Regions from separate parts of the Homo sapiens genome. Here region 1 is reported to be linked to region 2. Evidence: microRNA targets listed by miRTarBase, many of them from high-throughput screens and not tested one by one. Region 2 holds a microRNA gene; the other region holds the end of a gene's coding sequence.
The links. The annotated mature microRNA hsa-miR-6758-3p reads ACUCAUUCUCCUCUGUCCAG and lies in region 2 at 2,818-2,837, opposite strand. An mRNA with a match to its seed (bases 2 to 7 or 8) in the 3' UTR can be bound and repressed. Matches are read on the target gene's strand: a 7mer-m8 pairs with bases 2 to 8, a 7mer-A1 pairs with bases 2 to 7 and ends in A, and an 8mer does both.

Region 1: the mRNA of CD300E is a reported target of hsa-miR-6758-3p. Seed matches in the 3' UTR shown: 7mer-m8 at 3,576-3,582.

What each region holds. Positions count from the first base shown.
Region 1 is chr17:74,607,940-74,613,459 of GRCh38, forward strand. CD300E (CD300e molecule) reads right to left here. Exons shown (of 4, transcript NM_181449.3): 4 at 1,946-4,834. The coding sequence ends at 4,714. All of the region lies in intron 3 of LOC101928343 (a long non-coding RNA gene), which reads left to right. Among named protein-coding and RNA genes, the nearest start is that of CD300E, 13 kb to the right of the region's middle.
Region 2 is chr12:57,510,568-57,515,567 of GRCh38, reverse strand. MIR6758 (microRNA 6758) reads right to left here and starts at 2,880; the gene lies at 2,818-2,880. MARS1 (methionyl-tRNA synthetase 1) reads right to left here. Exons shown (of 21, transcript NM_004990.4): 12 at 3,700-3,870; 13 at 3,465-3,560; 14 at 3,215-3,332; 15 at 2,604-2,817; 16 at 717-848; 17 at 510-614; 18 at 232-418. It also overlaps the pseudogene LOC124903093.

The DNA of each region.
Region 1 (5,520 bases), not on the chromosome of region 2:
GGGTGATCCAAGACAGCTCTGCTGGGACTGTTGCCCAGAGACCCTACATGTGGCCTCTCTGTGACAGCTGGGTTCTAAAAGGGAATATCTGCAGACCTTCCAGAGGGCAAGCGTTTCAATAGACTGAAGAGGGAGCTGCAGGGTTTCTTCTGACTTAGCCTTGGAAGCCATACGGAGGCCCTCTTGCATTCCCCATGGGGGCAAATATTGGTTCTTGCAGGGTGGAAAAATATTTTTACTCTTTCTAGATACAAAACAGAGATATAGATGGATGGATGGATAGATAGATAGATAGGTAGATAGATAGATAGGTAGGTAGGTAGATAGATAGATAGATAGATAGATAGATAGATAGATAGATAGACAGGTGAATGGATGGATGTACAATACATCTTTGGTATTAACATTTCATGAGGGGAGATATTTAGGGATATTCTTTTTTTAGGGATATTCATTGTTATCTTAGGATAACAATGAAAAAATGTTGAGAAACACTGTTCTAGTCCACAAGTTGAAACAGTCACAACCCAGCCAGACCCAAGGGGAGGGGACCTAAGCCACAACTCTTCATGGAAGGAGTATCAAGAAATTTGCAGCCATGTTTTTAAACTGCCTTGTGGAAGAATCATAATGTAGCGCCTTCATGTCACATATAAGAATAGCGGGACGTGAAGGGGTGAAGCCACCTGGTCCCCAGTCACAAGGCCAGAGAGCAGAGTTGATTCTGCCTCTGAATGGCAGCCTGGAGCTGGCCCACACAGCATCCCTGCAGGCCCATCTGTGCACTTTAGAAGGTCACTTCCCAAGCCTGCTGGGGGCACCATATGGTCCCAAGAATAAAAATGAGGCCCTGAAACACCTATCCTTTACTCAGAGGTCACAGTCCAGCAGCCATTACTTGCACAGACATGTCTTGTTTGGGTTCAGTGGGTGAATGGTTAAACAAATTATTTTACACCCATGCAATGAAATCCTGCTGAGCAATAGGAAGGAATCAGCTATTGGTTGTGGTAAGTGCAACCACTTGTATGGATCTCAAGGCTCAGTGAATTAAAAAGTCAATCTCAAAATATTACATACTGCATAATTTCATTTGTCCTCAAAAGGATGACACTGTAGAGATGGAGAACAGATTAGTGGTTTCCAGGGGACAGGAATGGGATAAGGGTGCAAATACAAGGGACAGCATGAGGGAGATCCTTGTGATGATGGATTGGTTCTGTATTTTGACGGGGGTGGTAGTTACCTGGATCTGTAAAATTGCATGGAACTCTACACAAACATATCCATAAACCAATGTATGTTAAAAACGGTGAAAACTGAACAAAGTCTGCAGTCTAGCTAACAGTATTGTAACAATGCTGGTTTCCTGGTTTGGGTCTTGTCCTACAGTTATATAATACATCACCATTGAAAGACACTAGATGAAGGATTCACAGGACTCTATGTTATATTTGCAATGTTAAGCCTATAATCATTTCAAAATAAAAGTTTCAAAAATTAAAACCTCCAGGGGCTCCCTATGGCCTCCAGAACACAATTCAAACTTCTTGGTCTGCCATGAAGCCCTTTCAGACTGAGGCTCCAGCCCCATATCTCACTCCTCCCTCACATGCACTCTGCACACATGGTAATGGTAACGTAGCTCCTGAAGGTCCTGGTATCCACCATGCTCTATGACTCTTCCCTACCATTGTCTGGGACAATCATCCCCCAGTCTTCTGCCCTATTTTTATAACTCAAGCCCTCAATTTTCCTTCTCCGCTTGGCCCTCATGGGAGTGCCTCCCTTCTGTGCCCCCACAGAGCACTGTGCAGAACCCTGACACAAATTCTAACACACCGCATCGCTATTGTTAGTCTACATCTTAGACTTCCCTTCTAAAGGAGTAGGGACTCTGCATAGTTTAAGTCCTTATCTGTAATGCCCAGAACAATGCACCATAGACACACAATAAAAGTTTATTGAATGAATGAGTAAATAAAGGGAAAAAAGAAAGGAAGAATAGGGGAAAAAAAGGGAGTAAGGGAGAAGGGAAAATTCAAAGCATGGAGAAGCCACTGTTTGTTTCTCCTGCACCTGCTGTCTGCCATCTGTCTACTCTTTCTTAACTCTTCTCTTCTGGCTTCTGCTGTCATTGCTCTGTTGATCTGCTCTTCTGAACTTCATTAGTGACCTTGTGAATGATAAGTTCAATAGCCTCCTCTCAATCCCGGTCCTCCTCCACCTCTCTAGCTCTGCTCTCCTCCTTGAAACATTCATGGCTCTTGACTTCTCATCTTCCACCTGTTTGATTCTGCTCCAGCACCTTGATCAATGTCTTCCTCCTACCCTTTGTCTTTAAATGCAGGTGCCCCGAGGGCTCTGTCCTTGGTTCTGAACTCTTCCCTCCATGTTTTCACTTCTTGCTGGGTTCCAGTTAATCTCTCTACACACATTCCTCTCCAGCCCTCAACACTCTGCTAACCCACATCTCTAGCTATCTGCTAGACCTCTCTGCCTGATGATTCCAAACACACAGAAAACTAAGCTCTGCATCATCCAAGCCTGCTCTTGACTTTCCTACTTCTGTCAATGATGCCCGATTCCTCTGGTTTTCCAGGCTTAAGACTCCGGACTCCCAGATTCTTCCTTTCAGACTTTGCTACATCTGCTAGGCAAGTCCTCCTAAAGCACATCTGCAATCCCATCTTGTTCTGCTCAAATCCATCCCACCATAGCTAATCAAAGTTTAAGTAAGAGTTGAGTCCTAAGCCTCCTGAACCTGCCACCACCTGAGTTCTTCTAGATTAGTTCCATCTGGCCTGCCACAGGAAAATTTCACTCCATTGGAATCTTAGACACATCCTACCATGAGCATCTGTATGTGAACAGTACAGTCCATTTGCTGATAGGTCTTCTATAAGTGACTATTGTTATGAAGATTATTTCCCGCCTCTCTGCTTTCACTTATGCTGTTTCTCTGTCCTCTCTCTCTCCCTGTTGCTCCATCCCTGCTCCGCTGAAATCCTATACCTCCTTCAACATCAACATGAATGTCACCTTCTTTCCCTGACCTGGCCAGCTTGGCATGATATTCTCCTCACCAACCCCCTGACATCAGGAAGCATCTCTTGTGGCTCTAGAGTTCTTCCTATGCTGTAATGACTTGGGAGCTTATCCTTCTCATAAAATGAATCATAAGCTCCTTTCTTGCTCATCATCATATTTCCCGGGTTAATATAATTAATATGGGCCTTGTTAGATTGAATTTCTCTTTCAGCATGAGTCCTGGGCCAGCCCCATCTTTCCCCTAGTCACCATGCATGATGGAGCTGGGAGCCCCACCAGAGCTCAAGTTCAGAGCACGGCAGCTCTGCCTAAGCACTCGGCACTCAGAGGGTCACTCCATGTGCTCTGGACACTGGCATCACTAGCTCAGGATGAGCTCAGGCCTGGGGGCAGAGGGGGAGCACTGGTCCAGATGTAGGTAGCAAGTGGAGATGGTGATGCTTGCTTGTGGCAGACTGTGGGAGTCCTCCCCACAAACTTTAGGGAAACAGAGTAATTGACAAACATTCAGAAAACCAACTGAGCTCATTCCCGAGCCAGGGGTCACCAGTAGTGGTGATAGCACTGTGCACTTCAAGTGTGGACAAGTATCCTTCACCTCTGTGCCCTCCATCCTGTCTTTGAAAAACGATATCTGCTCTGCCTGTGGAAAAGGTTAATTGCTAACAGGTGGTCTCAGCCAGACTTCTAAAGTGGACAGAACTGACTCTGTTGACCTTGTGCATTGGACACCTCCAGGTGGGGGAATTCCAGGAGTGATATCAGGGGCACCCACCAGCTCCTTCTCCCTTTACTGTTTCAACTCGCCCCAGAACTTTAACCTGGAGCAGCTCATCCACGGCCCACCCAGGCAGAGATGTTCTGAGCCCAGCCACACACTGCCTGGTTACAGGGAGAGAAGGGGCCTTAAAGCCAGGGAGACCCAAGGGGCGTCAGAAGACGAGAGGAGCCCTGAGCATGTGGGACACTGGGCAACTGCATGAGCAAGCTCTGCCGGGACCAAGCTCCCTTGGGGTTGTCCCAGAGAAGAGATGGAGCTCTGTGAGCCTAAAGGCTGGGGCTGTGAGGGGTGTGTCCTCAGGGAGACTCCTGTCTGCAGGAAGGAGGTAGTTATTGCCCTGGGGGAAACTGGCCTGAGAAGCATTTGTGCCAAGAAGAATGAAGGGCCAGGCTCCTCCAGAAAATTTTTTCCCTCCCTTCCTCCGTCCTTTTCTCTCTCTCTCTCTCTCTCTCGCTCTCTCTCTCTCTCTCTCTCTGTCTCTCTCTCTCTCTCTCTCTCTCTCTCTCTGAGACAGGGCTCTCTATGTTGCCCAGGCTGGCCTGGAACTCTTACGTTCAGCCGATCCTCCTGCCTCAGCCTCCTGAGCTGGGATTATAGGCACTCGCTATGGTGCCCGGCCAACTTCCAGGGAATTCTTGCCCTTGGGAAGTGGGCATGAGGGCAGGGAGGCAGGGGACTGGGGAGGAGAAAGGAGGACCCCCAAGCTGCACATTGAGGACTCCAGAGGAGTGTCCTCTAAGAGCCAGGACCCTCCTTTGAGGCACAGGAACAATAAATCCCTCCAGAGTCCACAGGTCTCTCGCATCCAGTCTGAAAGGTTGACTCCCTGCACGGGGCACTCCTGGGGATGGGGCTCTGCAGGGCTTCGGGTCAGCCTGGCTCTATCTTCCAGGAGGAGCCCACTGAGGCCTGTTCACCCAGAAGACAGCACCCAGCATGCTCAGGAGCAGGGGCAGCTTCAGAAGGACCACGAGCAGGAAGTGAGGGCTGCTGAGCCGGAACCTGTGGTGGACACGGTGAAAATGAGTCACTTCCCCGGGAGAACCCCCAGGACCCTTCTCTCCCCACCTCTCCCCATGCTCTGACTCTGGAGCCCAAATAACCCAGGAGCAGCCAGGGAAAGGACCTATGCCAGGGCAGCCCCTTCTGTGGCCCCCATCCCTCCTTCTCCCTCCATCAAGGACTGCCCGGGGGGTCTCATCAAGGAGAGGTGATGGAGTGAAGACAGAAGAGGGACCCACTTCCAGGAGTGCGCTCCACAGCACCCTCTCTGTCCCTGTCCCACTCACAGCCTCCACTTTATCAACTGACTTCTTAAAACCAGTCCCCACTCTCGCTTTTTTTATTTTCTGAGACAGAGTCTCACTCTGTCACCCAGGCTGGAGTGCAGTGGTGCAATCATGGCTCACTGCAGCCTTGACTTCCTGGGCTCAAGTGATTCTCCCACCTCAGCCTCCTGAGTAGCTGGGACTACAGGCGCACCACCACACCTGGCTAATTTTGTATTTCGTAGTAGAGACAGGGTTTCACCATGTTGCCCAGGCTGGTCTCAATCTCCTGGACTCAAGTGATCCACCGCCTCGGCCTCCCAAACTGTTGGGATTGCAGGCGTGAGCCACCACACCCGGCCACCACTCTCACTGTTCCACTCCAGCTCCTTGTTCCCTCCCCTCAGGGTCTAGCAGCAA
Region 2 (5,000 bases):
TATCTGTTTACCAGTTAGTTTTGTGTGCCAGGTTCTGGTTTCTGGCATGAAGAACAATGAAGATGTACAGATAATTCCGGACTTGTGAACGACTACCAAGGACTTTATATCAGAAACTTAGGAGTCCCATGACCAAAGTAACACTGGAGAGATGTTAGGTCTTCTCTCACCCACTCCAAAAGCTGCATGGCAAGAGTATCAATTTTAAGAGAGGCTGGCTCTTCCACCTACTGTGCCAATCTGGTGTCCTGCTGGTAAGGTACACAGGAAGTTTGTCAGCAGGATACTGCAGGCTGGAGGTGGGAGCTGCAGCTGGGCCTGGATTGTGGCACTAACCGTGGGCATGTAAGGCTGAAGCATGACAGAGAGCAAGGCAGCTATATTCACTGCCAAGCCAGTCACTGTTCCTGCCCGTTGCCTGAGGAAGAGGAGACATTAGTCAAGACCTCCAGGAGGATACAGCTTACAAGCCACTTTATGCCTTTAGCCAACCCTCCCCGCTTACCTACCTGTCAGCCTCACTGCCTTTAATCCGCTTCCAGGGCTCATTCACCTGAATATATTGGTTGCCATGTCGAGATATGGTGAGGATACTGCGCAAGGCATCCCGGATCCTGGGAAGGGAGGAAGCAGGCCAAGGTGTAATGTCCTACAGAGACCAATACAAGGAGGCTCTCAACATGCCAGCAGAAAAGACAGAGGTGTCAGTTACTTACCGAACCTTCTCAAGTAGCTGGTGATAGTGCTGGAGCTCCAGGGTGACATGGGCCAGCAGGCGCTGATCATCAGGGGTGAGCACCATCTCAGGCACATAGCCCCCAAAGAACTTAGACACAAACATCCCAGCTCTTGGTTGGGAGTAGGAAAGCAGAAGTGGAAAAAAGAGGGGAAGTTATTATCCCGTCTCCTTGTTAGAATTTCACCCAATTTCCACAGCTGTACATTCTCTCAGGATTCCTGCCTGGAACAGGTAACTCCTGGCTCCCTCAAGCTAGTAGACAAGGCCTAATTATTTACTCTTTCTCTCCCCTAAGAATCTGACTCTGCACATAAGAAACCTGATTAAGTTAAACAACTGTACCTCTTATTTTTAAGAAGTCATTACTCGGCCGGGCGCAGTGGCTCACGCCTAAAATCCCAGCACTCTGGGAGGCCGAGGTGGGCAGATCACCTGAGGTCAGAAGTTCAAGACCAGCCTGGCCTGGCCATGGTGAAACCTCGTCTCTACTAAAAATGCAAAAAATTAGCCGGGCGTGGTGGTGTGCACCTGTAATCCCAGCTACTCTGGAGGCTGAGGCAGGAGAATTGCTTGAACCCGGGAGGCGGAGGTTGCAGTGAGCCAAGATCGCGCCACTGCACTCCAGCCTGGGCAACAAGAGAGAAACTCCATCTCAAAAAAAAAAAAAAAAAGTCATTACTCAAAATGACCAAGCTGAGTATGTGTTAACTGCTATCAAACAAACACTCTAGGCAAGTACTTTTTTTTTTTTTTAATTTTTTTTTTTTTTGAGGATTCTCACTCTGTTGCCCAGGCTGGAGCACAGTGGCATGATCTTGGCTCACTGCAACCTTTGCCTCCCGGGTTCAAGTGATTCTCCTGCCTCAACCTCTTGAGTAGCTGGGATTACAGATGTGCGCCACCACGCCCGGCTACTTTTTGTATTTTTAGTGGAGACGGGGTTTCACCAGGTTGGCCAGGCTGGTCTCGAACTCCTGTAGGTAAGGACTATTTATTAAATGTGGTTAATTACCAAAGCTGAAAGTGAGTAGCAGGACTGACCTATAAGGGTCCAGGGCTCAGAGAGTGTGACTAAAGAATCCTAAATTCTGGAGAATACTGCTTTAGATTGCAGAAGAGCTGAGATAGGCACCAATGATAGAATGTGAGCCTAAGGTAACAAAAACTCTGAACTCTGAAGAGTATAGCAGAAGCCTTTTTTTTTTTTTTTTTTTGAGACAGGATCTCCCTCTTTTGCCAAGGCTGGAGTGTAGGGGTACGAGTACTGCTCCACTGCAGCCTCAATCTCCCAAGTTCAAGAGACCATCCCGCCTCAGCATCCTGAGTGGCTGGGACTACAGGTGTGCGCCACCACGCCTGGCTGATTCTTTTTGTAGAGATGGGAGATTCATTATGTTGGTCAGGCAAGTCTTGAACTCCCGGCCTCAAGTGATCCTCCTGCCTCAGCCTCCCAAAGTGCTGGGATTACAAATGTAAGCCACCATGCCCAGCCCACAGAAGCCTCCTACCCCCACACCAAAATAACCCCTTTCTTCAGCCAAACTTTTCAATGATCTGCAGGTGAACTATTTTGCTGGGAGAGAATACATCTTCAATTCTACAAAGAACAGTAATAAGGAAACAATTTACAAAAACCCACTTTATAACCAACTTTGCTAAATCACATCTCTACAGCTAACTGTTCCATCAAGCACACATAGCCTAGTATGTGCTAGGAACAGATCCCAATTAATAGAAATCAACTTTCCACAGTGTCCTCACAGCCTCCTGCCCATTTTCTAGTTCTCTCCACATTCCCATCTCCTGAGGGAAAATGAGCCCCACCCCAGCTCACTGCTAACTCTGACCCCTTACCAAGTCCTACCTGTTGATGAAGTTGCCCAGGTTGTTAAGCAGCTCAGAATTATTCTTCAGCAGCAGGTCCGTCCAGGAGAAAGCACTGTCCTGGCCCTCAGGCCGAATGTACAGCAGATAGAAGCGCCAGATGTCAGCAGGGATCCCCGTGTCCTGGGCCATGTCCCCAAACACTCCCACACCGCGGCTCTTAGAGAATTTCCCATCCTCATAGTTCAGGTACTCTGGACAGAGGAGAATGAGTGAGAACCATCTGCTCACATCACATCCTTCCCCTCTCTAGCCCACTAACTCTTCCTTCTTTCCTCTTTCTAACCTCAACTATGGGTGTCTAGCAACATTTCTCCTTAAGGGGCTGGTATGCTCAGATTTTGGGAGTCCCTTCCTATCCATTCTGGCCCTTTTTTCTCTTTGCTTATATCTACTAAAGAGTTTTAGCTTTAGACTTTTGCTTTCTTCAGGTTCTTGTTCGTTTCTCTAGGTTGAGTTCTCATTTTAATTATTTCCTATTTCAGCTCAACTCCTAACTCAAGATAGCAGCTCTCCAAGATCTTTTTCCAAGTACTGCCTCACCCCTCATTTCCTATGAACACCCCATCAGTAGTCTTCCAGGGTACTTACCTGTAGCAATGAGGTGGCTGACCAAGGTATAGTTATCCTCAGCTCCTAGGGCTGAGCAAGGAAAGACTAAGCTATGGAAAGGAACATTGTCTTTGGCCATGAACTGATACAGGTCCACCTAGGGGAATGTGGTTAGGAGAGATTTCCTGAGACCTCCTTCAAAGGCCCAAGGAAGACCAGACACCCAACCCTAACACCCACACCCTACCGCCTACCCTCCCCATGCACAGCCTAACCAAGAACTGCTCACTTGCTCTGGGTTCTTCCACCATCTCTCCCACTGGTCTGTGTAGTTGGCTGTGATGGACAGATAGCCAATAGTGGCATCAAACCAGACATAGAATACCTGGAGGTCAGAAGGAGGTAAACATGTTAGGGACCAATCCAAAGTCTCAAACTGAAACAAGACATAATCAGCAGTCTACTCTGCTAGCCCAGGGTTTCAACACTAAGGCTGAATGATATGAATAAAAAAGGGTTTTTACCTTGTCTTCAAAACCTTCTAAGGGTACAGGGGTTCCCCATTTGAGGTCTCGGGTTATGCAGCGTGGCTTGAGGCCATCCCGAAGCCAAGAACGGGTGATAAACTGGGCATTGGGTGTCCAGTCACTGCCAGGCAATGTCCTCCCCAACCACTCCTCCAGTCGCTTCTCCAGCTGAGATAACGGAGAAAGAGGGCTGATTTAGGAAAGTCTCATATATGGTTAGCATAAGGATAAACACATATAACCTTTTTGGAGCACAATTTGGCAATATATAACTTTTTTTTTGGAGACAGAGTCTTGCTCTGTTGCCCAGACTAGAGTGCAGTGGTGCAATCATAATCACAGCTCACTGCAGCCTAAACCTCCTGGGCTCAAGCAATCCTCCTACCTCAACCTCCCCAGTAGCTGGGACCACAGGTGCACACCACCATGCCAGACTGTAATTTTTGTAGAAACAGGGTTTTGCCACATTGCCCAGGCTGGTCTTGAACTCCTGAGCTCAAGCAATCTGCCCACCTCAGCCTCCAAAAGCGCTGAGACTACAGTTGTGAGCCACCCTGCCCAGCCTTAACTAGATTTTTAACACACAGCCAGGGGCAGTGGCTTGCGCCTGTAATCCCAGCTACTCCGAAGGCTGACGCAGGAGGATCACTTGAGGGCAGGAGTTCATGACCATCCTGGGCAACACAGCAAAATCCTGTCCCTAAAAAAAATTTTTTTTTTTTTAATTTTTAAAAATATGGAACACTTCACAAGTTTGCATGTCATTCTTGTGCAGAGGATGTGCTAATCTTGTCCATATCAGGGTCTCACTGTCACCCAGGCTGGAGTACAGTGGCACATCATGGCTCACTGCAGCCTCAACCTCCCAGGCTTAAGTGATCCTTCCACCTCAGCCTCCTGAGTAGCTGGCACTACAGGCACGTGCCACCACACCTGGTTAATTTTTGTATTTTTAGTAGAGATGGGTTTCACCAAGTTGCCCACCCTGGTCTCAAACTCCTGGGGTCAAGCAATTCTCCCGCCTCAGCCTCCCAAAGTGTTGGAAGTTGGAATTACAGGCATAAGCCACCGTGCCCAACCAATTTTTTCTTTTTTTAAATACAGACAGGGTCTTGCTTTGTTGCCCAGGCTACTCTCAAACTCCTGGCTTCCAGCGATCCTCCTGCCTCAGCCTCCCAAAGTGCTGGAATTACAGGCATGAACCACCATGGCCAGCTGAGGAAGTGCAAAAAAGAAAAAAAAAATTTTCTTTTTTTTTTTTAAGGTAGGGTGTCACTCTGTTGCCCAGGCTGGTCTTA